Regions from separate parts of the Homo sapiens genome. Here region 2 is linked to region 1. Evidence: fine-mapped expression QTL. A gene starts in region 1. The other region holds a variant in brackets. All regions are shown on one strand. Distances are from middle to middle. Region 1 holds the start of SCYL3 (SCY1 like pseudokinase 3). Region 2 holds the start of METTL18 (methyltransferase 18, RPL3 N3(tau)-histidine).

Region 1 (16,592 bases):
TGTTTGGAATACATTTTGTTCAGCCATTCATTGGTCCAGGCATTTTTTAGGCGGCAATAAAAGTACTCAAAATGAAGACACAGCAAAGCTCCAAATGCACACATCTACCCAGCAGACAAGTGACTTCACTGTCTACTATCACGGGGAGCAGAAAGAGTGCCCTGAATTGAGCTCCCCTCTGAGACCTAACCAAATGCACACCTGGCCCAACCTTTGTCTGGAGAGTTAATTTTGTGGTACCAATTTCTGTTTTAGTTTTTCTCTCTAAAATAACTTTATTAGTGTAATCACATTTTCATGTAATTCCTAATTACCCTTCTTGGTCTGAATTCCTATTATTAAAATGCCGTGTTTACACACTTGGTTTAGGGCTACTCTGATTTCAGCACATCACTACCGGATTTCCTTTAGCTGTTTCTTGGTTTCCTATTTCTTGCAGAAGATAAAAAAGACAAATAAGCCCTTCCTCTTCCTCCGCACCTCTCTTATCAAAAATGGTGAGAAGATAGCAGTGGTGCTATTCCTTGTGTTTTGGGAACACACGTGTCTTTGCCACTTGGTTGTACACACCGTAGTGGCTTTTACTGCTGCTAATGTCACTGGATCAATAAATTCATTCCTAATGAACTCCATTTAGATTCCATACAGTGAGAGGCAAAGTTAGGAAAAAAAGTAAATGAAAAAATTCAAAAGATTGGTGAGAAAACAATTGCTGTGAGAAAAGAGGAAAATAATTTTTTAAGAAACTAGTATCAAAATTGAGGGCAAAAGTTTTCAGAGGAGGTCTAAAATCACTGGGATTTGTTTTACTCATTTTTAATATACTTGCTGATGATGGAACAGACATTGCACTGAATCCCTTTGTCCCATAAGCAGTAAGTTCCCCGATCTAGCTGCTTCTTCCTTGAGGTAGAACTGAGACTGGGGTGGGTGTTTGTTTGCAGGGAGGAGGGGAGAGACTCAGGAGAGATGGCAGCCCTGAGAAAGACTTGGAATAGTACAGTGAGCAACAGGGAATTTTTTTTTTTTTTTAAGGAAACAGAGCAAATGGTTTTTATGTTGTCCTGAGCTGGAAGCACAGCTTTGGAGAGGACTGAGAAACTAGCTAAAGATCATAAGTTACTGTTTCTTGGCATAAATTTGTAAAGTTAACTGCCATCTATACCTTATCAGGAAATGTGACCATGCCGTATCCCCTCCTGTTTCCTACCAATGCTTTGGAGCTACTATCACAAGACCCTCAAGATTGTTATCATATGAGGAATTACAGGCTACGGGCACTGTTTTATAGATGTAAGACTCAAAAGCTTCCAATTTAAGTGTAGGAGACTAGAATATGCCCAAAATATGCCTCCTTGGCATAAGGATTATTTTCAGCTGAAGGCAATTGAGAAGGAGCAGATATTTTTAAAAAGTTCTCTATCCTACTCCTACTTCCCTCAAAACAAGATATAAATTTACAAAAGTATTCCTTCTCCCCTCTCCACTAGGAAACACAAAGTTTGATCACTAAAGGCAGCTTCTGTCAACACTAGAAGAACCTACATTAAAAACTTCCATTTATTTGCCTTACCATGGTTTGCCATCCTTTCTTCTGTCTTATTTCTCTAAGAGTTTATTCTTCTTTGTTGAAGATGCCATATATGCCTGAGTTCTAAGCCACCTCTTTGAGTATCTCCTATGTGTATATGAAATACACATGAATAAACTTCTGTTTGTTTTACTCTTCTCAATCTTTGTTATAGGGGCCCCAGACAATGAAATTAAGAGGGGGAAAAGGAACGATTATTTTTCCTCCTTTATACAACTTTACATTCAGTTCCTCATCTCTTTATTAAATTATCTTTAAAATTACAAAAATACATGCATGTAATCCCGGCACTTTGGGAAGTTGAAGCAGGAGGCAAGGTGTTCAAGACCAGCCTGGGCAACACAGCAAAACCCTGTCTCTACAAAAAATAATTTAAAAAATGTATCTGGATGTGGTGGCACATGCCTGTAATCCTTGCTGCTTGAGGGGCTGGGATGGGAGGACTGCTTGAGGCCAAGAGTTCAAAGTTATAATGAGCTATGATTGCACCATTGTACTTCACCCTGGGTGACAGAGCCTGGACTCTGTCTCTTAAACAAATAAACAAAAACAATGTAGGCTCACTGTAACACATAAAACAATATGCAGATATATAAAAAGGTATATAAAGAAAGTAACCTCTCCCTACCTTACATGGTGAATGTTAACAGACTAGTATATATTTTTCTATACTTCCATTCATTCATTCATCAGTAAATAATTGTTGAGCATCTATAATGTTCCAAGCATTGTTCTAAGCATTTATGGCAGATCATTGAACAAAAACAGATTTTTTTCCCTTGTGAAACTTAACATTCTAGCAGGGGAGAAATAAACCATTAAAATGTAATTTTTTTAAAAAAGTACAATGAGGTTTCTCAGGCAAATATAAAATGAACACATGTCAAAGACTCTATTTAATGTTTTTATTAATGAGGGAATCAGTAAGATTTTAAACTAGTCCAAATAGCAGCTGAGAAGATAGGTGTATATGTAGGCAATTTGATAAAGACATGTCAGGTTCAGGTTGCTGGGTTAATAACTTACAGGACAATAAACTGTAACCATTAAGATGATTTGCTGTGCTGGACAAACTTATTTACATCTCTAGTGGATGAAAATGAAAAAGTTAGCCTCTGCCCCTAAAAAGGTAATAAAGAAGTAGTAAAATAACCTAGTCAATAGGAATTTAATCCAGAATTGCATGGGAAGAAAGCCACAGTAACCTCTTTTGCCTATTTTAAAGTTTCAGATAATTGTTTTCTCTCAAAACCAAAAGCCATAATACATAAGCAAATTGTCATATTTCATCAAATATATGATGCCATCACATTTAGGAAGCATCAATATATTTGGTACCACTAAGAAAAAATTATTGACAAATTATATTATGCCATTTGTGGTAAAATGCATTCTGACCTTCAGGGATGTTAAAATGTGAAAAACTATAGTTTTTACAATCTAGAAAATACAGTATATGGCTGTTTATAAGACGGTCAGTGCTATGGAGGGAAAAAGCAAAAGAAAACAGGATAGGAAGCACCAGGAGTGTAGCAGGAAGGAAGGTAAACGTTGTAGAATTAGATAGGGTGGATCAGGACAGACTTCATTGAGAAGACGAGATCTGAACAAAAAATAGAAGTAACAGACTTAGTCAAATGGACATGTGGGAAAAGAGAATGACAGGAAAAGGAAGCGCTAGAGCAAAAGTCCTAAGGCAAGAGCTCACCTGGCATGCTGACAGGACAGCAAGGAGGCCACTGAGCATGGACCAGAGTTAGTGAGCAGGAGGATAGCAGTGAGGCCAAAGGAGGGAGGCCTTAGATCATTTAGGGCAGTTCTCAAACCTTCCTGCAAGGAAGGTGCCTGCAAATCACCTAAAGATCCTGTTAAAATGTAGATTCTGACTCGACAATCTAGCGTGAGGCCTCAGCTTTTGCATTTTTAACATGCTTCCAGAGGATGCTCATGTTGCCTTCAAATATTAATTAACCACCCCTACAGGATAGATCTAAGTTAGTACACATCTGTATCTCCCTGAAGGCTGAAGTATTTCAAAGAAGAGGTAGATATATAATGCACACATTGTTTGCCCCAAATCTTTCTCCCAGGAGTATGATTCCAAGATGATTCATGGCTCTTTGAAGTTGAGAAGCAATTCACACTTCAGAGGCTTTTAGCATCTGAAAGATTTCAATGAGAAGTCTATACTCCTGGGGCAGATACTACAAACACTTCAGCTATCTCTAACTCAGATCAATACTAGTGGCTTTAAGGATGTTTAAAAGTGAATTTTCATGGCCAAAATAAGTAATTTCAAGATGGACAGAATGAATAGAAATGTTGCCATGCCTTACATGATCAGAGTATGAGAATCTAGTGAGTCTAGCAATCTACACACTTTGGAAAGGTGCCCTAGATTTAGGATTTCAGACCAGCCCCATATGGAGAAGATTACAAGAAGATTTTGTCACCCAGCTCTAATGAGGATAGCTGAGTCTGCTATTAGAATACTGTCCCATCTTCCTGCAGTGGATGGACCTTTCATGCAAGATGCTATTCAAGCTCCTACACAAGGAAGTGGAACCTCACTGAGTTTGTATAACAGCTCTACTGCCTGTCTTTAAACCTTGCTAATAAACGTGTGAATGTGTAGAATCCCACCTCAGACTTGCTTTCATTCTCTCTTTGTAGTGGTAGCAAGGTTATGGTGGAACTTAGAAAACACATACTTCTCATTAGAGAAATCTTCCAATATCTATGCAAAGTTCCTAAAAACAACGAGAGAACAAAGTGGCTTAGGTCCAGTTCAGTTTTCTATAAGGTATCCACTACTTATGGATGCTATATGTATTTATCTGAAATGTGCCTGAAGGAGGGTTTGTCATTCATGCAAGTTTCCCCCTTTACACTTCCAGATTCTAATTGCAATTATGCAATTACACAAATTATTGAGGTAGAACATTAAATAGAAATCACTTGAATAACTTTTACTCTCTTTGGTTTTCAGGTAGAGCTTGTAAAAAAGTTAGTTCAAATCAAGTTGGAAAAAAATAATTAAGTTGGATGGCTAAGGCTTTTATAGAACCAGGAATATATCCAAGATACTTATAGTCTACTTGGGAATCTAAGTTAGAAACATGAAAAAGATTAATTAAAAAAACACCTAAAAGTCAAGCTGAATACCATTGACATGTTTTGATTTGAATTAAGAAGAGGATTGGTTGGAAGTAAAATTCAGGTTGATCCTTAAACAGTATGACAAGAAAAAATTATTTCTATTAAGAAAACAAACTATTTGTTTCTAACTGTCCCACCAGCCACATTCCAAGGACAGCGGATTCAGGTTGTTGGAGATTCTTTTCTTTCCTGGCCTTAGACATATTTAAAATGAGGACTGAGGAATCAGTGAGGGAATACAAGATTTCTATGCATAAGAAAGGCAGAAGGAGCTCAGAGAGCAGCTCCAGGGAACTGAGAACTGGAACCAGAGCTATAGAGGGCTCTGTGGGGTAAGGGCTGGGAGGCAGAGAGATGTAGGGAGGGTGCCTGGGACATGCAGTGTGCTCTCAGTAAATTCATTTGTGTGTTTAATATTTACTGAGTACCTAGTATGTTCTAGGCACTGTGTTATGTGCTAGAAATATGGCAGGAAAGAAAGAAATGAAGGAAGGAAGCCCTGTTTTCAGGGAGCTGATGTTCTAGCTGTGGGACAGAGATGCTGAACAAATATGTGCATTGGTGTTAAGCAAAATAAGGCAAAGTCAAAAGACAGGAAGAGGCAGGTAAGGTGCTGTTTTAGACAGTGTTTTCAGGGGAGCTGTCTCTGATAAATTGCATTCAAGTAGAATTTTCAAAATATAATTATAACTCTCATGCAAATATAAAATGAACACATTAGTTAATGAGGAAACTAAAAAGACATTAAGACTGTTCAAAGAGCATTTGTGTAGCTACATACTTACAAGCAATTTTATAAAGAAATACAGTAAGATTACTAGATTAGATTTTAAAATGAGAAATGCTCTCTAGTGCAATAAGAATAAACTTTGGGGTTAACTTTTCCACTGGACAGAAAGATTTGCATCTTTGTTGGACAAAAATATACAAGTTAGCCTGTGATTTCAATGCCCCAAATCTTTAAGAGTCTGAACAGGTGACATTTGTTCAGAGACCTGAGTGACATCAAGAGCAAATAGGTGAGTAGATGAAGAGTGAAGAGGGGAAGGACTGAGTGTCAAACTCCCTCCCATCTCTCTCCTACTCCATTCACTGCAAAATATTCCCTTCTCATTGATATTTGGAGGAGTGGGTTTACCTTGGGGAAATGAAAGGAAATACAGAGTCCTCTAGGCTGATGAATGATTATAGAGGATACCCTGGAGCTCAGCACATCTGGACATAAGATTAGGGAGCAAGGAACAGGGTGGGAAGGCCAGCAAAGACTCAGAGGTGAGGACACTGGGAAGAGGGTGGGCCAGCAAGTAGCTGTGTTGACTGCAGAAGATTTCACGTACTGGTTGAAGGGACTCATCTCTACTCCTCCTGTAAAAGGAGGAAAAACATAGTTATGAACTCTCGAGGGATAGTGTGAAAGGCAAGAGAATCCTTCTGTCTTTCAAATCGACATCCTCAGCATGTTCTCCCGCTGTCTCCTGGTGCTTGGGTGGCTGCTGCTGTTACACCCACAGCCATTTCCTTTAATAGGGAGGAAAAACCTTTCCTAATCCACTGTCTATCTTCCTCCCAACTTCTGCTATGTCTCACCGGCCAGAACTTGTGACCACCCTAGCGGGAAAGTAGGCTCAGAAAGTGATCTTTTTGATTTCTTAACTTCTTTATCGAAGGTGAACAAGGGAGAAGGGGGTGAGGAGTGGGAATGGATGTTGGAGCTAGTAAACCTAGGGTCTATGTGTTGTATTTCTTTTCTAATTCGGTCTCGAGGTCTCTCTCTGGGAGTGGTTATAAACGTTAGCTCTTCCGTGATGGGGCTTGGATATTTACAGTGTGCCTTCCATGGAATACTTCTTTATCCTGGCAGACGGCCTAAATCCTAGGTGTCTGACCCATGACAGGAGGTCCCTCTCACAGGAAGCTTGTTTATATTAGCAGGCACATTTGTGGCTCTTGTCTGCCCCGTGTCTGGTTTATTCCAACCAAGACAGCCACTCTCTAGGAGAGCCCTAACCAGGAAACAAGTCAGGTGTGGGTGTATAGGTCAGGTGAGACACAGAGGAGGTGAACAAAACATGTGAAATAATAGAAGCAGTTTCATTACTTACAGATCCATAATAAGAGGACAGCATGCCTCACAGGGCCAATGAGAAGGGGGACACACATGCTCAACCAGTGGGAGGGGGACGAGACAGAGAGAGGGACTTGCGGGCCAAAGCCTTCACTGTGGTCCTGGGTCCAACATCTTAGTCCCACTGTGACTAAGAGGTGGTCACTGAGGCATATCTGCAAAGTATATGTGGGGTATAGGGGTCAAGGGGATGAAGCAAGCAGCTTGTACCTGATGGTTCGATAGGGAGGTGGTCACCAGAGGCGGTCATACAAGGCAGATGTCTGGACTGACCACATAGAGGAAGTGGGAGGAGGCACAGAACTAGAGACTGTCCAGGGTGACTAAGCCCTGCTTCTAGTTTGAGAAGGTTAAACCTGTCCTCAGAATGGATAGTGAGGCCTTTGATATGTTCTCCCACCTCTTCATCAAGCATATTGACAAATCCTTTTTCACCAACTTGTCTTGCTATAACCGCCCAGTAGGTTCACCTTGCCGTCTGCCTAGATAGAGCCAATTTATCAAGACGGGGAATTGCAATAGACAAAGAATTCATGCAGAGCTGGCTGTGTGGGGGGCCAGAGTTTTATTATTACTCAAATCAGTCTCCTCCAGCAGTCGAGTTTTTAAAGACAATTTGGTGGGTGGGGAGGGGCAGTAAGTCAGGGAGTGCTGATTGGTTGGGTCGGAGATGAAACTATGGGGCATCACTGTCTTCTTGAACTGAGTCAGTTCTGGGTGGGGGTCACAAGATCAGATGGGCCAGTTTATCATCTGGGTGTTGCCAGCTGATCCATCAAGTGCAGGGTCTGCAAAACATCTGAAGCACTGATCTCAGGAGCAGTTTAGGGAGGGTCAGAATCTTGTGGCCTCCAGCTGCATGACTCCCAAACCATAATTTCTAATCTTGTGGCTAATGTTGGTAGTCTAGACCCCAGGCAAGAAGGAGGTTGGTTTTGGGAAAGGGCTTTTATTGTTTTTGTTTTAAACTGTAAATTATAAACTAATTTCCTTCCAAAGTTAGTTCAGCCTATGCCCAGGAATGAACAAGGATAGCATGGAGGTTAAGGACAAGATGGAGTTGGTTAAATTGGATCTCTTTAACTGCCTTAGTCATAATTTTGCAAAGGCAGTTTCATTGCTACCTGAATGATTTTCCTAACTTATCCATCAATCTCCTGGAAGCCTTTCTCCTTAACCAATGTCTTCAACTCTGCCAGACATGTGGCAGCTTCTTCATCAGCAGATGTGGCCTCTCCAGTTATTTTTATGTTTTTCAGTCCAAACCTATTCCTGAATCTGTGTAGCCATCCCTTACTTGCAGTAAATAGCTTGGTGTGCCTAATTTCAGGGGATCCCTTTCTTAAGTCTTCCTATAGGCTCAACACTTTCTGGCAAAACTTACTGCGGTCAGCTGAAATACGTTTTCTGTTCATGTCTCCCACCCACAAATGTAATGCCTTTTCCGTCTTTTGCTGTTGCACCTCAAACTACAAAAGTTACAGCCACAGTGCATGATAGGTGCTTAGTTAACTAGCACGAATCTTTTTCCTTCTTCACAATTTCATGGATAATTTGTTCTTATCATAGATTTTGGCAACCTCAGCATATGACTCTTTTTCTTTCCTTATTAAGTCCAGAGCTTTCACCTTTTCATTTAAAGGAAGCACTTTACAGCTTCTCCTCGGCATATCCAAATTGTCAGCACAATTCCTGTGCTTTGCGGCCATTATTAAGTAAAATAAGGGTTACCTGAACATAAGCAGGTGGTATCTCTCATTATCTCTGCTATACTACGGGTGCATCTGTTAACCAAAGCAGCTACTGAGTGGGTAATGAGTGGATACTGTACACAGCGCGGCTACCTGCGACAGATGATTCGCGTCAAGGGTGGGACAGAGTGGATGGCCCGAGATTTAATCGGGCTACTCAGAATACAGGCGGTTTGAAACTTAAGAATTGTTTATTTCTGGAGTTTTCCATTTAACATTTCTGAACCAAGGTTTGACCACAGGTAACTGACACTGCAGAAAGCATGGAGGGGGGCAAAACTACTGCATTAATATTAAAATTTTCAAATATTACTTTTTGCTAAATGAAATGTGATTCAGGACCTTCCCTCTCAAAGATCAAGCGAGATCACCACGACCTCCGCCAGCAGCGGCTCTGCACGACTCCACCCTCGCAGCCCAGCCAATCAAAGCTACAGGTTGAGTGACGTCACTCTCCTGAAAGTCCTCGCTAATTCCCGTACTCCTTTTCTCCGCCCTGCACCTCTACTGTTTGCTACAAGTGGCCAGCAGCCATTTTGGATTTGGGCGGAAATGAAATTAAAACTGTGCTGTTAAAAGCCTAAAAATTCAAGTCAAGACAAACTTAAGCATTCGACCAACACATCTAGAAAGGGGGCATCTTCGTGGACTAACTAGACCACTGGGGCAGTGAGTGAAACTCGGTATCGTCGCGGCGCCCACACTTAAGATGGCACCGGCCTGAGACTCAGCTGTGCGGCCTCTCTACCTCGGTTCCTGGTTAGTTGGCCTCATTGGTGGCGTCGGAGGGAGGAAGGTGGGCCTTCTGTCCCGTTTCCGGACCCGTCTCTATGGTGTAGGAGAAACCCGGCCCCCAGAAGATTGTGGGTGTAGTGGCCACAGCCTTACAGGCAGGCAGGGGTGGTTGGTGTCAACAGGGGGGCCAACAGGGTACCAGAGCCAAGACCCTCGGCCTCCTCCCCCGCCGCCTTCCTGCAGGTAACAGGGAGCCCTGCGCTGCGCCCCCAGTCCTTGCAGGACTGCGCCGTGGGGGAAGGGGCCGGGCGGGGAGGAGGCGGCGGGCGCGCGCCCCGCTCGCGGGTCTGCGCTCTGGGGCCCGCGCGGGAGCGAGCTCGGCGCGGCGCCGGCGGCCGGTTGAGCTGTGCTCTCAGCTTCGGAGCAGCCTCCCCTTGCTGATTGTGGGGCGCCCTGTAATCTGCGCTTCGCGGGCGGCCCCCGACGGGTGAGGCGCCCGCGGCCAGAGCTCTCCAAGGCGGCCGCGGAGTCGGTCCTCGCAGGGAGGTGTGGAAGGTGAGGGGCCAGCGAAGCGAGAGCGGCGCCTCGGCCCTTCAGTGACCCCGCGGGGTCGCGGCAAGCAGGGCGAGGGTGCTCGGCTGGGCGGGTCACTGTCCCGGGGCGGCAGTGCCCGAGCCCGGGGGGATCCTGGGGGCGCGCCCGCCCTCGGGAAGGCGGCCTCATTCTTGATCCAAGACCAGTGCCCGTCCCCCAAGGCCCAGCTGGCTCCTGTCTTGGCATAGTGCTTTCTGTTTAGAATAAAGATGAAACATTTCTCGGAAGAGCATATTCAGGAATCCATGTGAAATTCTCGGAGTCGGGTCTCGAATTTTGGGGGTCACTGTTAACTGCTGTTTTTAGGGACCCATGTTCTTATAAAATGTATCTTGAGCTGAAATCACAATTATTTTGGTCCATAAAGACTTAATTGTGTATTGCTTGTCAGCTAGCAATGCTGGACTGAGTTCCGCAGAGGGAATATATACCTGAAACACGAAAGCAAGGGCCGGAGTAACGTTACCGCTGGATACCAGAATATCAGCCAGTACAGTGCATCCTTAATACTCAGAGTGCAAGCCATTATCTTTGGAACTTTCAAGCTAAGGGAGCTAGGACCAAGGTAGTCTCGAGTAATTGCTGGGAAAAGAAAATATTTGGTAGAAACATTTCCATAGAGCACACGGGTTTCTTAGTTGAGTGTATGAGTTGCCCTTTGACCTAGACAAGGGTTTTCTTAATCTACAAGCGGTCCAGAAATTTTATGTGCTGCCCAAGTAGGCAAAAGAGTGGAGGGAGATTATTAAAGGGAAGACTGATGCATATTCAAGTCAGAGACTGTCAACTCAGCATTTTATTATAGAGTGGAGATGCTAAGTGCTACGAAATACCTATTACGGGATACTAGGATATCCTTTTCTACCTTCTTGTGACTTTTTAATTTCAAAGCTAATGAGCAAGATTTTGTGTTTTCCCCGTCCTCAAAACAACAGGAAAGCATTTTGGAAGGCCAAGTGTTTTTCTTACATTTCAATAAATCAATTTTAGCTGAATTATCATTTTTAAAGCACTGGCGGGCATGGTGGCACATGCCTGTAATCTCAGCAACTAGGGAGGCTGGGGAGGGCAGGTAGCTTGAGCCCAGGAATTCCAGGTTACAGTGAGATAGGATAGCGCCAATGCACTCTAGGCCAGCAGCAACAGAACAAGACCATATCTCTATTTAAAACAAAAAACAAACAAAAAAACTTCTTCATATAACAGTATTTGTGCTTCTTTAGATATATTAGTGTGAAGAATTACTGCTTCAAAACATTCTCAAATTGCAATAATCAGCACACCTTTTTAATTTTCCCCCAATAAAGTTTGCACTGGGAACATACAATATAATCTTACCACTGTCAGTATTACACTGATGGTATCAGTGGACTTCTGTCAAAGTTAACATGCTTTCAAAACAAGAAAATGGCATCCTTTCCAGTTCTCTCAAGAAATTGAGTCATCCCTTTTTAATTTTTAAGTGATTTTTTTAGTCTTAGACCTAAAATACAGTAAGAAAAATGAATTTTAACTACTTCCTAATGCTTTTATAACTTTGTTAATTATAGTGGAATTCATATGAAATCTAAGGTTAATAGCTATTGCAAGGCCAATGTTCCCACAAGGAAGTATTTTGCTATTTAGAAATAGCTAAGTAAATTAAATGTTCCTTTCTCTTGCCTCTGGTGACTGCCATTCATCAGCCAGAGCACTGACCCTGAATCCTGGTGGCAGTCTTATCTCCCATGAGGATTAATATTAACACTTAAATAAACAGCATGATTTCCTGCGAAGAAGATATTCATTAATATACAGTCCCTTATTCTCTGCTTTTCTCTTAATTGTGTGTTGATTTTGGAAAGCTGTGTTTTGTGGGTGAGAGAGAGACGGTCAGACTAGCTTCAGATACTTTCAAAGTAACACTTCTGTAACTCACTCTTCCAGTCTGACTGGCTTTTCAGGCAGGAGTTGGAGACCAAGTAGAGCTTTCTGCCTATGAAATGGCAATTAGTTTCAAAGAACATAGACCCATTCAAGTTACCTGAGGAAAAGGGGGCTGGTTGTAAGGGTGTCAATGGGATGTTAGGGTATCTGGGTGGAATTAGATTTGAGGCTGGGCTTCCGGTAGTCTTGAGATGGATAGTAGTAATGTGCCCCCTAAGTATGACTAAGCTACGGTCCCAGTGTTTGCTTTTTAAAATTTTACTACCAACTGACTTCCTCTGGAAAGTTTCTGACTTCATGTGGCTTTGGTTTGCCGTAGCTCCACCTCCACCTCATAGCATCCTTCTACCTTCGGCTATGCTTCTAATAGGCAAAAATTGTTCTTAGTTCAAATTCCTGGGGGAGACAATGATCTGGCCAGTTTATCTCTTCACTCAGGCCATGAAATTGATGGCTAATTTGTGAATTAACCGCCCTTTGGCCCAGGATAGGTACCTGCCAACATTAACTGTGCCCAAGAAGAGGTGGCAAGATCAAGTGCTAAGCATAATCCTCCCTACTCAGCAGGAGGTTGTGACAATCTGGCCAGCACTCTATCTCCAGAACAGAGGGATTAGCATTGTTGCTTTTACCCATGGTCCCACATAAACTTTTTATTTGTAGTCCCAGTAGAAAGGTGAATGTTACCATAGTTGCCATACTTGGCATTTCTTTTAGTACTGTTTTTTGCTTCTCTGTCATTTTTAAGAAAGATACATTGCCAGGTAGGTAGGAATTCAGTGAATTTGTTACAAAGCAGATTTAGTTCTTATTCTCAGCAACATTTTTAGATTTTGAAAATCTTCAATTTTAGATAGCTTTAGCCTTTATACATGTGTTTCTTATATAACGATGGTTGTGGATCGGTAGGCACTTTAAATTTTGTTCTAGGCATGTGTTTTGAGCAGCATTACATACCCAGTGTAGAAGGTGTTGTATGGAATTTCACCGAAGTGGGGAAAAATTCCAAGTAGAGGGTCAATGTGTAATGATTATTGAGTTTATATTTGTCCAAAGAATACAGATTTTAAACAAATTTTTAAAGGCCTACATAGAATTATTGGCCGTATTTGTAGCAGTTTGCTTTCTACATTGCCAGAGTTAGTAAGAACTCTATTTTCTAATTTTTATATTATGGTAAAGCCACCACTGAAAACTGACTGCCACAGATTTTTCAGACATACGTTGTTTGGCCTATATAGGTTTAGAAAACATTTGATTCAACATTGAAAAATATGGAGATTTCCACAAAACTATTCAGGCTCTTGGTTCCTCACGATAAGTGGCATGATCTGACAGTTCTGAAACTGCAGTCCTGGTTGGAACTCTGTGATAGCCACTGTCTTCAGAATGCAAGCCTCTCACAGTAGGTCCCATGCACGCACAGTAGGTCCCTCTGCCAGGCTGCCAGTACTGCTGGGGCACTGCACATTACCTGTTGTCACCCTGTGAGTTTGTATCCCTGTTGTCAAGAAAGCTGTTCATATTGTAGAAGATTTGGAAGGTGCAGGCAAGTGTGTGTGTATAAAATTACCTATAATCTGACCTTCCACTGGAAACCTCTGTTAATACTTCAACATATATTTTTCAAGTCTGTGTGTATGTATACATATATTTCTTTTCAAAACAACTTTGAGGCGTAATTGATACAGAATAAATGAAAAAAGTGTACAGTTTTATGTTTTGACATAATCACCCGTTACCATCATCATCATCAAGATAATGAATATATCCATCCTCCCAAAAGTTCCTCATACATCATGATAATCCTTTCCTCTCCCTTGATCCCTCTAACTGTGCCCCTTCACTAGGTGAGCACTGAAGTATTTTGTCATAGTTGCATTTGAATTCTGTGTATGTGTGGGCTTTTGTTTTTTTTTAGCAATTGAGATTATTTGAGATTCAGTTTTGCGGTTTCCCCTTTTTACTTAGGATAGCTTTGAAGAGTAGTGCGATCGTACTTTTTCTTATGTTTATCGTCATTTGTGTTTCTTCAATGAGTTGTCTGTTTTCTTTCCCATTATTGTACTGGTGTTTTAGTGTTTTACTTGGTTTATATGAGCTCTTCATTTGTTAATATGTTTTTCATCATATTAACAATGTTTTTCAACATATTAATATTAAAACCATGATTTTCCTCATTATAAGTATTCTCCAATTTGTATTGTTTTCCTTTATAATTTTAAGTTATTTTCTACATACAGAAGTTTTATTGTTTTTGAGTAATATTTTTACAACATTTTCCTTTGTGAGTGAGGATATACAAGTGAGTTAGGAAGTATGAATTACCTTATTCTATTTTTGATTGCCTTTCCACTCTGAAAGTTTGTATGTGGTGGAGTTTGGGGAGGGACAGTAACTACCTGTGACTATTTAGTAATGTGCATTTTCTCTAGAGCTGTTAGTTGTTAATTAACAACCATTGCTGGTAACTTGCAGAGCGTTTACCATTTTTACTGTCAAATGTCCTAGTTATGAGGATCAAAGAAACTAGTAGTTTGGGGTGGCTATGTCTGGATATCTCTTGTTGATGTTGCAGATAGGGATTTAATGTTTGAAATTGTTTTCTGTTTTCTTTTAGATCTGCTTGGCTTTGAGGAAGAGTGGCAGTACTGCCTCACTGCATAAGGGATGGGATCAGAGAACAGTGCTTTAAAGAGCTATACACTGAGAGAACCACCATTTACCTTACCCTCTGGACTTGCTGTTTATCCCGCTGTACTGCAAGATGGCAAATTTGCTTCAGTTTTTGTGTATAAGAGAGAAAATGAAGACAAGGTTAATAAAGCTGCCAAGGTACCATAATAGGTGACGACTTAATAGTTAGTACTTTTTACTATCTTGTTTTCTTTTAAAAAAATATGAAATTAGTAAAGTTCAAAGGAGGTAAGATCATAAGGACCAGTATTTTATTTATGTCCTTTCAAAACATTGCTCTTACTTCATGGGCCTATCTTCCATTTGCATGACATGGTCAGGTACCATACCTGTAGCCAAAAAACATCATAAAACTCAGTACAATGGCTTTTATCATCATATTTTATTTTTCTGGTGAGAAAGTTAGGGAGACATTTTTATGTAGCTAATATAAGATATAAGGAGCTATATAAGGAGTTAATCTCGTCTAGCAAAATGCAGTTAAGTATTGACATCATTCTGGAGGCTTCAGCTTCCTCCTTAGGGAAAAGATCCTTGTAGTTCATGCCTTATAATTGTTGCTCCAGGCAGAGGGTGCCAGTGCATTAGCATGCTGTCTGACACACTCAGGAGATCCTGGCCTCTTATCAGAAAAAATGATTTTACTGTGGAATGTAAGTCAATAAAATAACCCCAAGTGTCTTTTTGAATTAGGGAAAATGAAGGCATTAGTTGATGCTTCTTTGGATAGCTAGCACTTTGGAAATTTAGGAATTCAGATATATCATCTTCTAAAATGGAAAATGTAATTGTATTAGTAAATTAATTCTCCAGTGTTTATTCTGGTAGGCATGCTATTTTCAAGTTGAACTTGATATCTTGATTTTGTTAGAATTATAATCTCTATTACCTTGAGTCCCTTAGTTATCAACAGGTATGGAACATTGATGTCTGTTTCATAGGACTCTAAATTGTTTTTATTTTTTTAAAATGATTATAAAGGATTATATTAGTAATGGAATTTTGGTCTTCACAACAGTAATTTATTTGATGTTGTATTTTTGATCAAGCATGAAATTGTTATAAGATGGTTCCTAAAGAAAAAGATGGGTAACAGTTCTCTCGAGATGCGTGGTGGTAAAAAGTATATAGCTGGCTGTTTTCTTGCTAGGTAATTTTGCTTTTTGGTAGAACCACATTTTTGACTCTTTTTTTACATCATCTAGGTATTGTTAAGAATTTTTTATTGTGATTTTACAAAAGACAAAATGCCTTACTTCGCTTTCTTGTTCTTACAGTTAATGTCTAACATGCCTCCTGTTATTTTCATCTAATAAGATTGTGCATTTTTTTTAATAAACTATTATCGGCGAGGTACTAGAGACTTATCTTTCTTAGTATTTTTTTCTTTATAAGATTTTTTTAAAATTGTGTTACACTTTATGGTGCACGTACCAAGAAAATTGAATAACCTAGATCGAGTTTTTAAAGGAAAAAACAGCAAGACCACTCTCCATTTTTGAGGACTTCTGTGCTGAAGGAATTGCGAAGCTTGAGAGGGAAGACTTATTCCCCCTTAATATTCATAGATACCCTTTTAAGCCATGTCTGAGTCTTTGCACATAGTTCATCTTTGTCTCTTGTTAAGCCATTCTGTGGCTTTGAAAACCTCATATATGAATTTGGGAAATTTGAAATTGCAACAAAGTGATAACTTTAGATTCTCAGAATGTTTCTCATAATCTTAAAAAACTAGGTCATAGCACTTGAGAAATGTATGGCATTCGATGTGCTAGATTTTAGGAATTTGATGTCCTAGGTATCTGAAATACTAAAACAATATATTTAGCTTGCCTCACTTTCTCTAGAGTTTGGGTTGTTGGTCACACCTTTGGTAGTTTTAACGATTATTTCAAGCAGATATATAGTGTTTTCTGTTACTGGATAACAATATACACTTTCTTCACTGTTACAAGTAAAAAACAACAATCCTAGTATACACCAAGATGAAATGCAGGTATAAGCTCTGGCCACA
Region 2 (16,592 bases), 110 kb after region 1:
AAGGAAACTATTAATACTCCAAGTGAGAGGTGATAAGGGTTTGGAATCAGAGTGGTAGCAATGAGGATGGAGATAAACGGATTGATTCAAGACATAGTTTGGAATCAGAAACAATAGAACTTACTGATCGGGTGTGTGAGACAGAGAGGATTCAAGGTTTCAGTTTGTGAAACCATTTACTCAGATGAAGAAAACTAGAGGAAGTTTGGGCTTTTTTGAATATGTCGTTTGAAGTGCAAAGCTAGGTGGGAATGTTGACTTTCAACTTAATGAAGTCTCTCTATAAGCTTGTGGGGAAGAAGAGGAATCACGTTCCGTGTCTCTGTTCTCCCAAAGCCTAACACCATGTCTCACACACATTATGCACGCAGTTTAAGTGTTTTTGAATGTTTTGAGGGTGGCTATTTGTTTTCAAGTTGAAACTCCTTGAAGACGGCAGTTCTGTACCTACACAAAAACTAAAAAAGGGGGCTTTGGCACCTTCTGAGATTTTGCTAATGCCTAGGTGAATGACTTCTATGTGATTACATAGGGCTTTAGCTGCACAATATTTGTGCAGTATTGAGATTCTCTCAAGTGAAGGTTACTTTTTTTCTTTTGAGTGTAATTGTATAAAGCTGGGCTCAAATGTTGTGAAAAAGATACATATACATATGGTTTACCATGAAAGGCTAGGATTCCAGGCACATTTACAACCACAAAGGCATGAGACCAATCAAGAATGTGCTGCACCCGGACGAAGAAGGCGCTAAGCGCCTCAAATCCAACAGTTGAAAGCCAACAACAAGCGGAAGAACTCTTTCAGAAAGACTCCAGCCTGGGTGAGAGGAGTGAGAACTTGTCAAAAAAAAAGAAAGAAAGAAGAAAAAGAGGTCTGAGAGGGGAAGGAGGAAAATCATTTTTATTTACTGAACATCTTTTAAAGATTTCACACCACAGAACTATGCCCTTTAATTCTTATAACGCTAAGAAAGCCCTTATTCATATTCACCACCCTTTTTACGGGAGACAAAAGCTCAGAGTATCTCGCTTTACCTCAAACTATTAAGAGCCAGAGCTATCGTCATACCGCAGGTCTCAGTCCTTGCCTCCCCCATTATCCACTAGCAAAAGTATTTACACTTAATTGCAAGCAACGAGTACAGAAAAACTGAAAGAAGGAATGGAAGAAAACGCCACATCCACTGCTAAAACCTTGGGTCAGAACACGTCCGCGAGGCTTTCCAGGGCCAAAGCCTTACTTAAATCTACCACGGTTGTCGCTTCCCCTCCAGTCCCTCACTTTTCATCCCACTCACTGACAAAGAAAAGAGGGGGTTCAGGCCGCGGTAATATAACCCAGCCTGGCGGTGGGTCTGAAGGGACAGAAGAGAAAGGTTCGCGACCCGCCCACACCCTTCTCTAGGTAGAAGTGACAACCAAGGAAGGATATGAGGAGTCGGGGCAGGACGGACGGCAGTTCCCGGCGGCATAGCTCCTCTGGCCAGCTACTTAATTCTTCCAGGGGAACCGCGCTAGCTGGGACCGCACCTTCCTGAGACATACTTTCGTCAAACAGGAGAGCTTCAAACCAGACCCGCCAAAGCCCAGACCGGAAACTCGCAGTCCCGCCAACCCTTGCGCGCTCTCCGCCGGCTCCAAAACCATAGAGAGGAGGGCGGCTGGTTTCTTGGTGAGCCCGGGTCCCTCAAGGCCGGAAAGAAAGTCGGGCTTCTCTAGCCCCTGGAGGACTCGACTCACTGGTGCGCGATTTAGGTCCGGAGGAGGCGTTGTGAGGTGAGCTTTTTCAGAAGCGCGATCCCAGGACACGTCGGGAAGCAAGCATCCCCAGGTCTGGATCACTGTAAACATTACATTCAAATGGGGAGGTGAGGGCCAGAAGTCCCCACTTCTGGGGTCGGATTTGTTCCGGGACCTGCAGCCGGAAGTGACTCCAAGCCTTGCAGCGTGATGGGAGAGGAAAGAGGCGCGTTCCTAGCCGCGGGACTGGGTGACCCGCCTCTCCCCCAAATTGTAAATCTTGTATAAAGGGAACAAAGATCCCACTTGCCAGAACTGTGAAAATTGAGGCAGATGGTATAGTGTCTAGCGCAGTAGATAGAAGATTCTCAATAAAGTTGCTTCTTATTTCTACAGGTCTCTCCAAACTACTGCAGTGCCCTAGTTTGCGTTTGCTCTGCCACCGAATTAGTCTTTACTAATTATTGCCAAATTACCCCCACTTCTATACACTTAGGGCTGCTGTTCTCGACTAAATGTTTGGAGTGAAGTCTTGGATGAATTTACACACACCAGGCCATACCTATGCATGTTTTTAAAGGGACGCTGACTTACCAAAATAAAATACTGCACCTCTTCTGTAAAAGACAGAAGTGAAGTTATTCTGGAAGCTTAGGGGGTGAATATGGTTGGACACAAATCAAGACAGCTGAAAGACAGCAAGTAGCTAGGCTGTCCTGTCTGAATATCTTGGACTTTATGTTTGTCCAGGTGGTAGTGGTGGTGGTTGCTGTTGTTCTTCTGTTTGTTTTTATAGTTGATTTTCTTCTCCCACTTTGGAACCCTTAAGGTGTGTATGAGTGTCCAAATCTCTTATCTCTCTCTCTTCCCCACAACTTTTTAAGAAAAAGCAGCTGTATGGTGGGACAGGGAGGGGTGGGGGTGGCTGTTTAATATTACACTTTAGTGAAATGTGCCATTTTGCTTTAATCATCATTTTCTTTCTTTTTTTTTTTTTTTTCTTTCCAGAGCTGCTTGGAAAGAGGACCAAAGACGTCTAAAAAGTCATTTGGAAATATCTCTAAATATTTGTTACCATGTATAAGCTGCTAAAGAGAAATTGGGCCCAACAAAACTAATTGAATAATTGAGGCAGATTTGTGTGTATCATCAAATTCTATCCAGAAGTTGAAGAATCTGAATTTAAAGATTGTGTGCATTTAATAAGAGGATGACCTTTCAGTTTAATTTCACTATAGAAGACCATCTGGAAAATGAATTAACACCCATTAGAGATGGAGCTTTGACCCTGGATTCCTCAAAAGAGCTGTCAGTCTCAGAAAGTCAAAAAGGAGAAGAGAGGGACAGAAAATGTTCTGCAGAACAATTTGACTTGCCTCAGGATCACTTGTGGGAACATAAGTCAATGGAAAATGCAGCTCCCTCTCAAGACACAGACAGTCCACTCAGTGCAGCCAGCAGTTCAAGGAACTTGGAGCCACATGGAAAACAGCCCTCCTTGAGAGCTGCCAAAGAGCATGCTATGCCTAAAGATTTAAAGAAGATGTTAGAAAATAAAGTCATAGAAACATTACCAGGTTTCCAGCATGTTAAGTTATCAGTAGTGAAAACCATCTTGTTGAAAGAGAACTTCCCTGGAGAAAACATAGTTTCAAAAAGCTTTTCTTCTCACTCTGATCTGATTACAGGTGTTTATGAGGGAGGCTTAAAAATCTGGGAATGTACCTTTGACCTCCTGGCTTATTTCACAAAGGCCAAAGTGAAATTTGCTGGGAAAAAAGTCTTGGATCTTGGTTGTGGATCAGGTTTACTAGGTATAACTGCATTCAAGGGAGGGTCCAAAGAAATTCACTTTCAAGATTATAACAGTATGGTGATTGATGAAGTAACCTTACCTAATGTAGTAGCTAACTCCACTTTGGAAGATGAAGAAAATGATGTAAATGAGCCAGATGTGAAAAGATGCAGGAAACCAAAAGTAACACAACTATATAAATGCCGATTTTTTTCTGGTGAGTGGTCTGAGTTTTGTAAGCTTGTACTAAGTAGTGAAAAACTTTTTGTAAAATATGATCTCATTCTCACCTCAGAAACCATTTACAACCCAGATTATTATAGTAATTTGCACCAGACTTTCCTTAGACTGTTAAGTAAAAATGGACGTGTACTTTTGGCCAGCAAAGCACATTATTTTGGTGTAGGTGGAGGTGTTCATCTCTTTCAGAAGTTTGTAGAAGAAAGAGATGTTTTTAAGACCAGAATACTCAAAATAATTGATGAAGGATTGAAGAGGTTCATAATTGAAATAACTTTTAAGTTTCCTGGTTAATTAACATTCACTGAGTATCCAAAATGAAATAAACAGAAGGACCAAAAATTTGAGTGTTTGATTTCTGTTTTGCTATTATTTTTTCTGAAATTTTGATGTTGTTTGTTTAGTTTTGTTTATCCAAATTGTAAGTGAGCTATGTTACCAGTCTTTTACTCACTAGGTGAAACTGAGAAGGTATCCTCGTGCATTTGATGAGATCTCCTGGGAAATCATTTTGTAAGAAAATCCGGTATTCTCCATCTTCATTCTATTTGACCTTTTACCACCTTTGACGTTACATGAAATTGTTCCCAGGAAATCCTGCCATTTCTTCTCTCAAGTCTGTGAATTTCTTCCCAGTCTTCGTTAGTTCCTTGTTCACATTAATATATATCACTAAATATTAGGTTGGGGCCTTATGTAAATAGGAAGAGGTTTTTGTTTCGTTTTGTTTTTATATTCATTTACCTTGTATAGTAAGGATCAGAATGCTGAGAATTTAACTAAATTCACATGGAGATGAGGAAACAAAGGGAATCTGTGACAGAGTATAAAAGTAATACAGAGAACTTGTACTACTTGAGGTTTACCCCTTATAGCCAAGTAAAAGATCCTGCGGTCTTGGTAGGAGGAAAAAGAATAAGAAAGGAGAATTCCAGATTTGGGGGAGTATAGACTTACCAGTTGTTAAATAGTAGGAAAGAAAGGAGAAAGTGTTTTGTTGATTCAAATGCAAAAATTTTCACGTTACCACATTGGGAATTGGGATCTGCCTTGCTCTCTATAAGAACAGTAAAACTGACAGCATTTTTTTCTCTCTTGGAAGTAGCTAAAATAATCGGACATCATGGATTCAATTGAATGTGATATTTACTGGACTTTGTATAGTATCTTGCATAATACTTAAAACCTTATGAGGTTTATGTCATCCCCATTTTAGTAGTGATCATAATAGCTAACTAGCATTTACTGTATACAGGGCAGAAGAGCTTTACATATGTTAACATTAAGTATTCATAACTGCCCTATAAGACTTCAAGAAGTTAATTGATTTGCTCCCAATCACATTTCTCACCTTGAACCAGCATCTGAAGGCTTTAAAATCTTTACACTCTTTCATCACCCAGTGGTCTCAACTCTACCAATGCCTATTTTCATCACAAATATTTCTTAGCACCCTCTTACTACGCTAAGATGAAAGTCATAGTTAAGGAAACTTACTTATATACATTATTAAAAAGCATATTCCTAGTTTATGTATAATTATATGTGATACTCATTCACAACTCTAATATGAAGAAAGTAATTTATAATCAAATAATTTATATCTCATCAGATACACATACAGATGTAGCTACACAGAAGACATGCAGCAGCCAGATGCTTATACCTAGCAACAGGGGTCCCTGATGCCTGCGCCGTGGACCAGTACTGGTCCGTGGCCTGTTAGGAACTGAGCTGCACGGCAGGAGGTGAGCGGTAGGCAAATGAGTATTACTGCCTGAGCTCTGTCTCCTGTCAGATCAGCAGCGGTGTTAGATTCTCATGGGAGTGCACACCCTATTGTGAACTGCATGTGTGAGGGATCTAGCTTGCGCACTCCTTGTGAGAATCTAATGCCTGATGATCTGAGGTGGAACAGTTTCATCCTGAAACCACTCCCCTGCCCAGCCCTTCATGGAAAAATTGTCTTCCACAAAACTGGTCCCTGGTGCCAAAAAGGTTGGGGACTGCTAACCTAGAGTACCATTACTGAAAATGCCACAGCTACAATTCCAGACTTACCTACTAGGTAAGGTAGAACAAATTGGCCTTGACAGCTGGATTGGGGAATTGAGGTACAAATCACTGGATAGAGGCTCATAATACATTAATTGGTTTCAATGATTTTGAGACAAATAGGTATCTCTCAATTCTCCAAGAGAATTAGACTTTTAATGAGGTCTCATCCAGGAGGCCCATTCAGGAACAGCAGAGACATAGCCTCTAACTAGGGGCTCAGGACACAATCTCATTTCCCAGGGAGAGGGTCCAGCAAGTGCAGAAAGGATCAAAGCAGAAGCCCAGTCATGGGAACTAGATAATTTGGGGCATTAAAGATAAATTTGGGGCCAGGCATGGTGGCTCACACCTGTAATCCCAGCACTTTGGGAGGCCAAGGCAGGCAGATCACCTGAGGTCAGGAGTTTGAGACCACCCTGACCAACATGGAGAAACCCCTTGTCTACTAAAAATACAAAATTAGGTGGGCGTGGTGGTGCATGCCAGTAATCCGAGCTATTAGAGAGGCTGGGACAAGAGAATCGTGAGAAGCACTTGAACCCAGGAGGCGGAGGTTGCAGTGAGCCGAGATCGCGCCATTGCCCTCCAGCCTAGGCAACAGGGAAAGACTCTCTCAACAAAAAAAGAGAAAAAAAAAAGATAAATGTGGGGGTATCAAACAGCCCAAAGGGAACACACCTACCCAAGATAGCTGGCAGCAAAAGGGACTTGAGACACAAATTATGGCTACAAATCCAGGAAACAGATACGCAGCTTTCTCATGTAACAGTATCATTTAATCATTTAAGGGTTATGATAACTTGGGTTAAAATTCAATTTCTCCATCTGCAAAACAAGATTTATAATATTATATCCCTAGCAGAGTTCCTTGAAGATTAAGAGTTAAGCATTTATCATGGTTCCTATCAAGTTTCCTATGTATAAGTGGAAATTATTATTTTTAATAATTCGTACTATTTATTCACCTATTTTCTGAACCAGATAGGAAGTCCTGCTCACTTTTGTTAAAAATGGTGTTTGTGCCTTTACAGTATACAAATTTCAGTTCAGAACCTGAAGAAACCACTAAGTTCTAAACCTCGCTCTGCCCACCATTAATCTCCACTCTCTCTCATCCCATTCCCCTCCCTACTCCTCACCTCTGCATTCCTAAATTGTCTTTTTTGGAAGCTTTGGTTGCAGATTATTTAGGATGAAGAAGAGTGCGTCTTGTAAATTTGCTTCTAAAACCCAGTCACATATGTGCTATGTTCTGCCTTTAAACTGCCCATTTCTCAGATGTGCCTGTCCTCTAAGTTCCAGTTTTCATGTCCCACAGACGACGTTCTGTCCATGGTTCAGAAACTCATGGAAATGTCTCTGTGCTGACTGAGTTATGACTTCTCTGTGTCAAATGTGATGGCCAGTGACACATCTGCTATAGGGTCTGTGGGGTGGATAAGTGTCAGCGTTTCATCTGGAGAATTAGATTTTCGAGAAGATTAAACCTATCTTCACTTTTCAATGCCGTCCATAGTATTTTCTTCAGGTGCTTACTAAATGGTCATTTGAAAAAGAGGAATAGCAAGGAAACTCTGACTCCATGAACTTGAGTCTTTGCCTCCACTTCAGCTGGGACATTTTGAATTTTTTATACCATGGTTATGATGGCATTGTGATTGTTGATAATAAGGATTTTCTTTGGGTAAAAGTACACATTTAAAATTGCCATCATAACTAGCGCAACCCAGGAGAGAAGTTGCTCTGTGCTTTGTAAGACTCCTCTACTGCAGTCCAAGGATGCAGCTTCTATATAGCCCAGATGGTTGGGGGAAGCCACAGTACATTTATGACTACTAGCTATCCAATTTCTGCCTTTTCAAGGAATTAAAATTCAGATAGCCCTTAAAAGGAGTTTCATCATCTATACGGGAGGTTATCTAACAAAAATGCTATTTCTGTTTGAAAGAAACTATGTAAAAATTACAATTAACGATTACAAAGAACAACTTTATAACTTAAATATTATCTAACTTAAATATTACTAAAGAAAGTGGGGCATTTTACCCCTCACAGAGCAAGGTGAGTGGCCAATTTGTGATCTGCAAAAAAAAAGATTTGACGCAGGGATACTGTAGCTATCTTTTTCCATTTACTGATGGGATGGAAAAAGTGGATGTAAAGGCTTGCCTTTGGCAGTAAAGTTGACCCTTGAACAACATGGGGGCAGGGGTGCCCACCCCCCTGCAGTTGAAAGTCCACATACACCTTTTGACTCCTCGAAAACTTAACCACTAATAGCATACTCTTGACCTGAAGCCTTACAGATAACATAAACAGTCAACTAAGACATATTTTGTATGTCATATGTATTATAGATTGTATTCTTAACAATAAATTAAGCTAGAGAGAAGAAAGTGTTAAAAAATTAGGAGGAAGAGAAAACATATTTACTATTCACTAAGTGGAAGTGGATCATCATAAATG[T/G]CTTTGTGCTTGTCATCTTCAAGTAGACTTCAAGTATCTTTGAGTAGACTGAGGAGTAGGAGGAAGAGGATTGATTGATCTTACTGTCTCAGGGGTGGCAGAGGTGGAAGAAAATCTGCGTATAACTGACCATGCAATTCAAATTCATGTTGTTCAAGGGTCAGTTGTATATATTTTAAGCCTTTACAATAGAATTGCATGTACTTAGTCTCATGAAACCCCAAGTGCCTTGGCTGTGCTGCTGCTAGACTGTGTGGTTCACAGTACAAAGATAAAGATGCTCCTTCCTCCAGGCAGATTCAGCCCCATGATAGGGGGAATGGTGGGGTAAGTCAAACAAAATCTGTTTTTAGCCCCACTTGCCCTTTCAACTCTTCTTAGTCATCTTGTGGCTTAGTACTACAAACTTCCACAGTCTTCCAACTGATAAGATATAGGAAAATGGGCAAAAAGTGATCAACATGAAAAAAAACTATGTAACATACATCACATGTAACATACATCACGTTACAGGGGGCTGTAAGAGATGGGTTTTCCTTCTCACAATGATTTGGTGCTCACAAGAGCCATTCCATTGAGGACATCCAGCATGGCAAAATGGAATAAAGTTTTAGTAATCTCATTGTGCAGCAGATTGTTAAAGAAAAAAATGGTTCAATGTTACTTGTTAAAGCATGGTAAGGCAGACTTTATTCATTACCATTGAGATAGTATAGGGACCATGGCAATGGGATTTTGCAGTAGTGGGGAGAAAATAGTCTTAACTGCAGAGTATGGGCAAGTGGGAATTTATAGCCGAGGAGCAAGGTGGGTCAAGGAGTCAGTGGATGAAAAAATACTAAGAGGAAGCATCAAGGGTAAGGAGGATTCTAATCTAACAGAACCTAATAGAATTCTCGCTGAAGACAAGCCAGACACTACCAGGGAGGGAGATAGTGACTTTTGAGGTGGGGATTCTTGCTAAACTGACTTAGCAGAGCTCTTTACTAAAACTGGATTTTACCAAAAAGTCTGCAGGTGGGCATAAGAGAAAGCCCAGAAGCCTAACTAAATTTTGGCCAAGGAAAGAATCTGTCAAGGTGAATGCAGAGTTTGAACCGGAAATTAGGGCTACAGAAGCAAGTATTCCTGTGTGAGCCTCCCACCACTGCACACTGCACACTGCACACTGCACCCTGCAGGGAAAGCATCAAAATGAGCACTGAAGTCAGATGGCTGCTGAAATCTGTCCCTATCGCCCCATTCAAGAGCCTTAGATGTTCTCTGTGCGTCCTGGCTACACTGCAGCAGCAGCAGCATAGTTCTGAAAGCCTCTAAACATAATCCAGTTAGCCACACAGTATCTGTGTAGCTCTAGTAATTTTCAAAGTCTGCTCTCAAACCTCCAGCAGGTCTCCACCAGTAAAGTTCTACTACTGGTCCCAGTAGAGCGGTCACGGATCATTCAATCAGCTCAGTCACCTCTCAGATCTTCCTAAGGCTACAGAGGAGAAATCAATGTGCTTCACAATGTGTAGATAACAAACTTGTCCACTGTAAGATCCTGAAAATTTTATTCAAAGAGATAAATAGGAAAAGAAATTTCTATTCTGTCATGTCTGGTCAAGACTTGTCCAGATTCTTCTTTCTGTGTGTCTAAAATGTCCTAGAGCTCAAAATTCTTCTAGATCTCTGCTATTTTAGGATAAATAACTTCTAGTGAATTTCTGTAAACTAGATGGTGCGCTTATTTTAAATTGCATGAAAAAAGTATTCAGTGTGTGGGCATTTTTTTTAAAGGGAGAATGCGTGTGGAAAGGTACACTAATGCCTAGAAATTCAGAACACATCCAGTCAGCTCAGTGGCACAGCAAATTGTGCCACTCTCTATGCCAGCTTTTTTATTATCATTGCTATTCCACCCTCTTTGCGTTTTAAAAATCTTCAGAGGAAGACCTATTTTTAATGATTTGCTTTTCTTCCCTAAGCTTTCCACAGATTAAACTCTGCATCCTGTTTGCTTTGCTGTGTTCAAGCTTCTCCAGGATTTTTACAATAACTTCTAAGGAAAAATACCTCAGAGATGCATTTTCTTAGAAGGGTGGTCAGACGTTTTGAATATTCTGCATTTTATTTTCTTTAACAGGAAATACATCCAAGCCTGTATTTTAAATATTAAAATAACCACTCGTTTAACTTTGTGACTAGCTTTCATTTTCCCAAAGTAGGAAAAAAATATTATTTATATAACCTCCCTCTTTGTGTTTCTGAAATACTTCAGAAACTCTTGTGTCTTATCTCCCAACATTGTTCAACATAAAGAGAAATAACCTTAGTTACAGTTGAAATCATTAGAGATTCTTAAGTTTCTGGTAATTTTAATTAGGTTCGCTATCATCTATTACTGTCGTATAGATATTTTACATGATTGCTTAAAAAGAAATGACAAAAGCAAATATAAAAACCTGAATGTAAATTATTTTACCCATAATTGGTCTAAAGAAACATCCTGGATCAGCCCAGTATTTGATTACATTGATATGCACAGGAGACAGGGAAATACAGGTTCGCTGGTAAAGGCCCCACCTTCAAGCCTGAAAATCTATAGCCCTAAGTGAGAAGAGGCATTCCTGTTTTTTGCACCTAAAAAGTTCCCTTTTGGCCTGCCATGCCCCTTATTGTGTACCATATAAACCCCAAATTCCAGGCTCCAGAGAGAGACAGGCAGATGAACGGCAGAACAGCATGGCAGAGAAGGAGAGAAGAGGAGCATCTGAACGTCGAGAGGCTGGGGACGACTGGAGAGGAGATCGGCTGCTGGACAGCCAAACTCCAGGAGAATATCATCTTCCCACTCCATCCCCCTTCCAGCTCCCCATCCATCCCACTGAGAGCCACCTCCACCACTCCATAAAACTCCCACATTCATCCTTCAAGTCCATGTGTAACCTGATTCTTCCTGGATGCCAGACAAGGACCTGGGTACCAAGAAGAAACTGAGCTGGTTAACGCTTAAGCTGCAGACAGCAAAGCTGAAAGAGTGCACTGTAACACATGCCCACTTGGGCTTTCAGGAGTTGCAGGCACCCACCTCTAGACAGTACCACGGGGCCAGAGCCCAAAGAGCTCGCCCAGCTCCTGCACCTTCCTGCCTGTGTGCTCCCCCTCCTATGAGGGGTTTGAGCTCATGGTGGCGCAGCAGAGAGCCACCCCACTGTCACACATCCTGCGAGGGGGGCCAGAGAACTCTCCCATCTCAACATGTACACAAGCTTTTTATTTCTCTGGGGCATTTTTGTAATAGGAAGAATTGAGACCCTCCCAGGTGCCACTTCCTACATGTCAGTCCCTTTGTGTTTTATTTTTCTCCAATACTGGCAGACTAAACAGAATTCTGCCTTACACTAAAGCTCAAACACATTCTCATCCCATCAAGAACGCACTGAGTACTTACTATGAGTAGAGAAGGTAATTTCCATTTTCAATTATTCCTGTAAAAAAAAATTACCACTTATAAGAAAGTTTACTCTTGTGTTGTATAGTAACTCAACACACTTCCCTTTCCACTTCATTTCTCCTGGATCTCCTATAAAAAGCTGAGTGATGAACAGAAAAGACCCTGGGTCTATTTGTGTTCTGTGTGTGCCCCTTTTACTGTGACTTGTGCATTTCCTTTGTTAGTCAGGGGACTTTGTCAGATTTAATTTATGAAGGTTCGGAGATTAACTAACGGGAAACAGAACAACAGGTAACTGAGAGTTTTGGACTCAAGCCTTCTCAGAAAAAGAGAAATGTATTAAAGCAAGCAAGCAAGCAAACAGACAAACAAAATTGGATGGAAGGGAGAGGAAAGAGATGAAGAATGATAGAGAAACACATATGGAATTGCATGAATTAAAATTTAGAGCAGCAGAAAGAGTGCTGGGGAAAAAAAATGGTAGAGCCCAAGGAAGAAGACCAGGCAATCAGGGAGTCAAGGGGTTGCCTGCAATTCACACAATACTTGTGAACTTTTAAACAAGTGACTGTGGGAGATTGCTGGTGACTCATGGTGGTAGAGACAATCAAGAAACAGGGTTGGCAAGAGTGCAAGGAGAGGCCCTTGATGACAGCCCCAGTGACCTTGCTGCACCCTACATTTGACCTCAGTTGGAGTTTGGGACTGTGGAACAACACTGCTGAACTTTATATGTAGAATAACCCACACCCCAGTTTGCTTGAGATAGTGCTGAAGTATGCATCTGATATAACATTCTAGCATTCTTAAAAGTGTATTGATTATGGCCAGGCATGGTGGCTCTTGCCTGAGATCCCAGCATTTTGGGGGACCTTGGAGGGAGGATCTCTCTAGCCAAGGAGTTCAAGACCAGCTTGGGCAACATAGGGTGACCCTGTCTCTACAAAGAATTAAAAAGTTAGCTGGACATGGTGGCACACACCTGTGGGCTCAGCTATGTGGGAGGCTGAGGTGGGAGGATTGCTTGAGCCTGGAAGTTCAAACCTGCAGTGAACCGTGGTCATGCCACTCCACTCCAGCCAGGGTGAGACAGCGAGAACCTGTCGCAAAAAAATGATAATAGGTGTGTTGATTATGGTCAGCTTGTGTATACCAATTCTGTAACACTATTCTTATTCTTATAACTTTGTTGAGTGAGTCATGATTTTAAAACAATCACTTGATAAATAAATATTAACTTCAAATCATGTGTCAAGCACTGGGTGTGAAAATAGAATCTAAAGTTAAAATGATACATTCTGTGCTTTTGTAGAGCTTCCATTCTAGGGTGGAAATACACAAGTGAACCTCTGGTGAGAATGTTTTACATACTGTGCAGGTTTCTGATAGGGTCATCCTTTTGAGCTATAGAGTAAGACTATATCCCTGTAATAGGGTGTATATGGAAGAAAGTTGAAGAGGAAGAGTATGAGTGGATATTTCTCAGTATAAACCATCTCCTGGTGACTTAGTAAATTTTCAAATGGAAGTAAAACTTTGAAAGTTGATCAAAGAGCTAGGAAAACTTGCTTCTTTTTTGACTCTGAACTTCAAGAATTGAGACAGTTCCTGACAGTGAGAGAACAGATGGTCTCTGCCAACTGTAGGCAGGCAATGGGGGACTAAAGGCTAAAGATGAGCAACATAAATCTCGTAAGAAAAATATTAGGAGAACACTCTTCCCCCTTTTCAAGAAGAGCCTCCCCTCCATTGCCAACCCCAAAGGCCAGCAATTTTGTTCTATTAGGGGAAATGACTAGTTTCCTTAATAACATATATATGAAAAACAACTAATATGAAAAAGACTAGAATAATGACAAGTCAACTGGGACAGTGCTAAAATAGAGGAGAAATTCCTTTGGGCCAGTGAGGGAAGACTTCTCAGAAGAGATAACACTTGATCTCAGACTCACATGTAAGCAGATTTTAATCAGACTAATAGGGGAGTGAGACTGGAAGCGTGGTGAGCTGAGTGCTTAAGAGGCAGAAAGACTAGTCTGTGAAAAAGCACTAAACTTTGAGAGCGTGTTAATTCATTAATTCATGAATTAATGAATTGCACCTAGGAGTTCAATATGTATTGAGCACCTACTATGTGCCAAGAATATTCCAAGGTCCTGGGTTCTAGGAGGAAAGTCTGCATTTCCAATAGGTCCCACGTGATCCTGATGCTTCTAGATAATGGATAGCAATCTAAGTAGCAAAGCTACAAATCACTGAACTGTATGACCTCAGTCAGATATGAAGCTGGCTCAGTGACTGATGAAAGACCTTCCAATTCTTTATTTTTCCTGTGTCAATGAAAAAAGCCAAACTCTATACAATATTTAAAGAAGTTTACTGTGAGCCAAATATGAGTGACCAAGGTCTGCAACACAGTCTCATGAGTTCCTGAAAACATGTGCCCAAGGTGGTTGGGTTACAGCTTGATGTTATACATTTTAGGGGAATGGAAGTTACAGGCAGATATCCATCAACACATATAAGGTGTACATTGGTTCAGTCCAGAAAGGCGGGATAACTTGAAGGAGTGGGGCTTTTAAGTCATAGGTGGATTCAAAGACTTTCTGATTGGCAATTGGTTGAAAGAGTTGTTATTATCTAAAGACCTGGAATCAGTAGAAACTAATAGGATAAGATAAGGAGTTGTGGAGACCAAGGGTCTTATTATGTTGATGAAGCCTCTAGATAGTAGCTTCAGAGAGAATAGACGGTAAATGTCTTGTGCTGGGCACGGTGGCTCACGCCTGTAATGCCAGCACTTTGGGAGGCCGAGGTGGGCGGATCACGAGGTCAGGAGTTCAATACTAGCCTGGCCAACATGGTGAAACCCTGTCTCTACAAAAAATACAAAAATTAGCTGGGCATAGTGGCATGGATCTGTAATCCCAGCTACTCGGGAAGCTGAGGCAGGAGAATCGCTTGAACCCGGGAGGCGAAGGTTGCAGTGAGCTGAGATCACGCCACTGCACTCCAGCCTGGGCAACAGAGCAAGACTCCGCCTCAAAAAAAAAAAAAAAAAAACATGCTAGCCTCTTAGTTAAATCTCTCCTGGATCAGTAAAAACTTGGAAAGAGAAGGAAATTCTGTACAGCATGTCAATTTTCCCCACAAGAGACAGCTTTGCAGGGCCATTTGAAAATATATCAAAGAAATATTTTTTGGGATAAAATAACTTGATTTCTTCCAGGGCCTGGCTCTCTGCTACAAAGAGTCTGGCTTGTCAGTCTTAAGATCTGTGTTTTAGTGTCAATGCTGACATTCAGTTGTGCCTGAATTCCAAAGGGAGGAGAGAATAATGAGTCATGTTGGGCTTCCCCCACCTACCCCCAATCCTGGCCAAAACTAGTTTTTCAGGTTTACTTTGGTATTCCTTTGGCTGAGAGAAGGAGTCCATTCAGTTGGTTGAGGGGCTTAGAATTTTATTTTTGTTGTATACCTGTTTAAATTTGCCATCAAATATTATCAAAATTTCATCTTACCTATCTAAATTACATGTTCTATAGACACTTGTGAAAACTGGCATTCTTGTAAAACAGTCTATCACAGTTTAGCACTTTAGTTTTATATTTCATTGGGAAATTTTTTTTTTTTTTTTAAGTTTAGTCTTTGAAAAACCTGTGGGCTGGGCGCAGTGGCTCATGCCTGTAATCCCAGCACTTTGGGAGGCTGAGAAGGATGATTCATGAGGTCAGGAGTTCAAGACAAGGCTGGCCAAGATGGTGAAACCCCATCTCTACTAAAAAGACAAAAATTAGCCGGAGACAGTGGCAGGTGCCTGTAATCCCAGCCACTTGGGAGGCTGAGGCAGGAGAATTGCTTGAACCCAGGTGGCAGAGGTTACAGTGAGCCAAGATCGCACCACTGCGCGCCAGCCTGGGTAAAAGAGTGAGACTCCATCTCAAAAAAGAAAAGAAAAACCTGCATACACTCATGGTTGAAGGAAAATACTGCTCTTCCTACCTGTTAAGCCCACCTCTGAGCATAAATCCTTGGATTTCACTTATCACACATAATGATCCATCTGTGAAGTGTTTGTTTCTTGTAAGCAAGTGACTGTGATGCAAGGCTGGTTCAACATACACAAATCAATAAACGTAATCTATCACATAAACAGAACACTTGGACACAGGAAGGGGAACATCACACACCAGGGCCTGTCGGGGGGTGGGGGACTGGGGGAGGGATAGCATTAGGAGAAATACCTAATGTAAATGACGAGTTGATGGGTGCAGCAAACCAACATGGCACATTTATACCTGTGTAACAAATCTGCACGTTGTGCACATGTACCCTAGAACTTAAAGTGTAAATATAATAAAAAACCATAGTTCTCTAATAAAGAAAGAACAAAACATTGAACTAAAGCGCAGAAATAGCCCTCAAATAGCCATCCAATTCTCAAATCTTGCTCCAAAGTTAGTGAAAGGATAAGAGTTGTGAAAAGCTGATCAGTGGAAACTTGAGTTTATTTTTTTGATTATGTTTTATGTGGAGCTCTCTTGACCTGGCTGTATTTCCAGGAGACTATGGGGTTAAACCACAGTGGTCACAGTGAACCTCATGTCAGCCCAACAGAAACAAACATATGATGCAGGGGTTGTATCCCTGACCCCCGATTAGTCAGTTTTGCCTGGAGTGGACCATCCAAGCATGCTTTTTTACTACCATTTTTCAGAAGACATTTCCCACATTCTAAACAAAGGAAGTCTGGCCTTTTCTCCGTGACGTTCCCTTATTGTTATTTTATGCTGAATCACAGTGCAATGCCTTACTGTGCACCCATGCTCCTTGCTGGGTATTGGCAGTGCTCCCAGT

The links.
Region 2: its variant is fine-mapped to the expression of SCYL3 in whole blood (TOPMed, PIP above 0.99). The same link has a PIP of 0.9 or more in blood mononuclear cells, spleen and tibial nerve.

What each region holds. Positions count from the first base shown.
Region 1 is chr1:169,886,800-169,903,391 of GRCh38, reverse strand. It overlaps SCYL3 (SCY1 like pseudokinase 3), which reads left to right and starts at 9,496. Exons shown (of 13, transcript NM_020423.7): 1 at 9,496-9,604; 2 at 14,502-14,716. The coding sequence starts at 14,552. RefSeq lists enhancers at 9,069-9,478, 9,153-9,740, 9,741-10,328 and silencers at 9,679-9,758, 9,999-10,058.
Region 2 is chr1:169,780,054-169,796,645 of GRCh38, reverse strand. METTL18 (methyltransferase 18, RPL3 N3(tau)-histidine) reads left to right here and starts at 1,739. Exons shown (of 2, transcript NM_033418.4): 1 at 1,739-1,831; 2 at 2,749-4,117. The coding sequence starts at 2,951. The coding sequence ends at 4,069. It overlaps FIRRM (FIGNL1 interacting regulator of recombination and mitosis), which reads right to left and starts at 1,606. Exons shown (of 25, transcript NM_001320047.2): 1 at 1,531-1,606; 2 at 663-817. RefSeq lists enhancers at 1,687-2,006, 14,139-14,640. The variant T/G (reference allele first, on the strand shown) is at 8,300.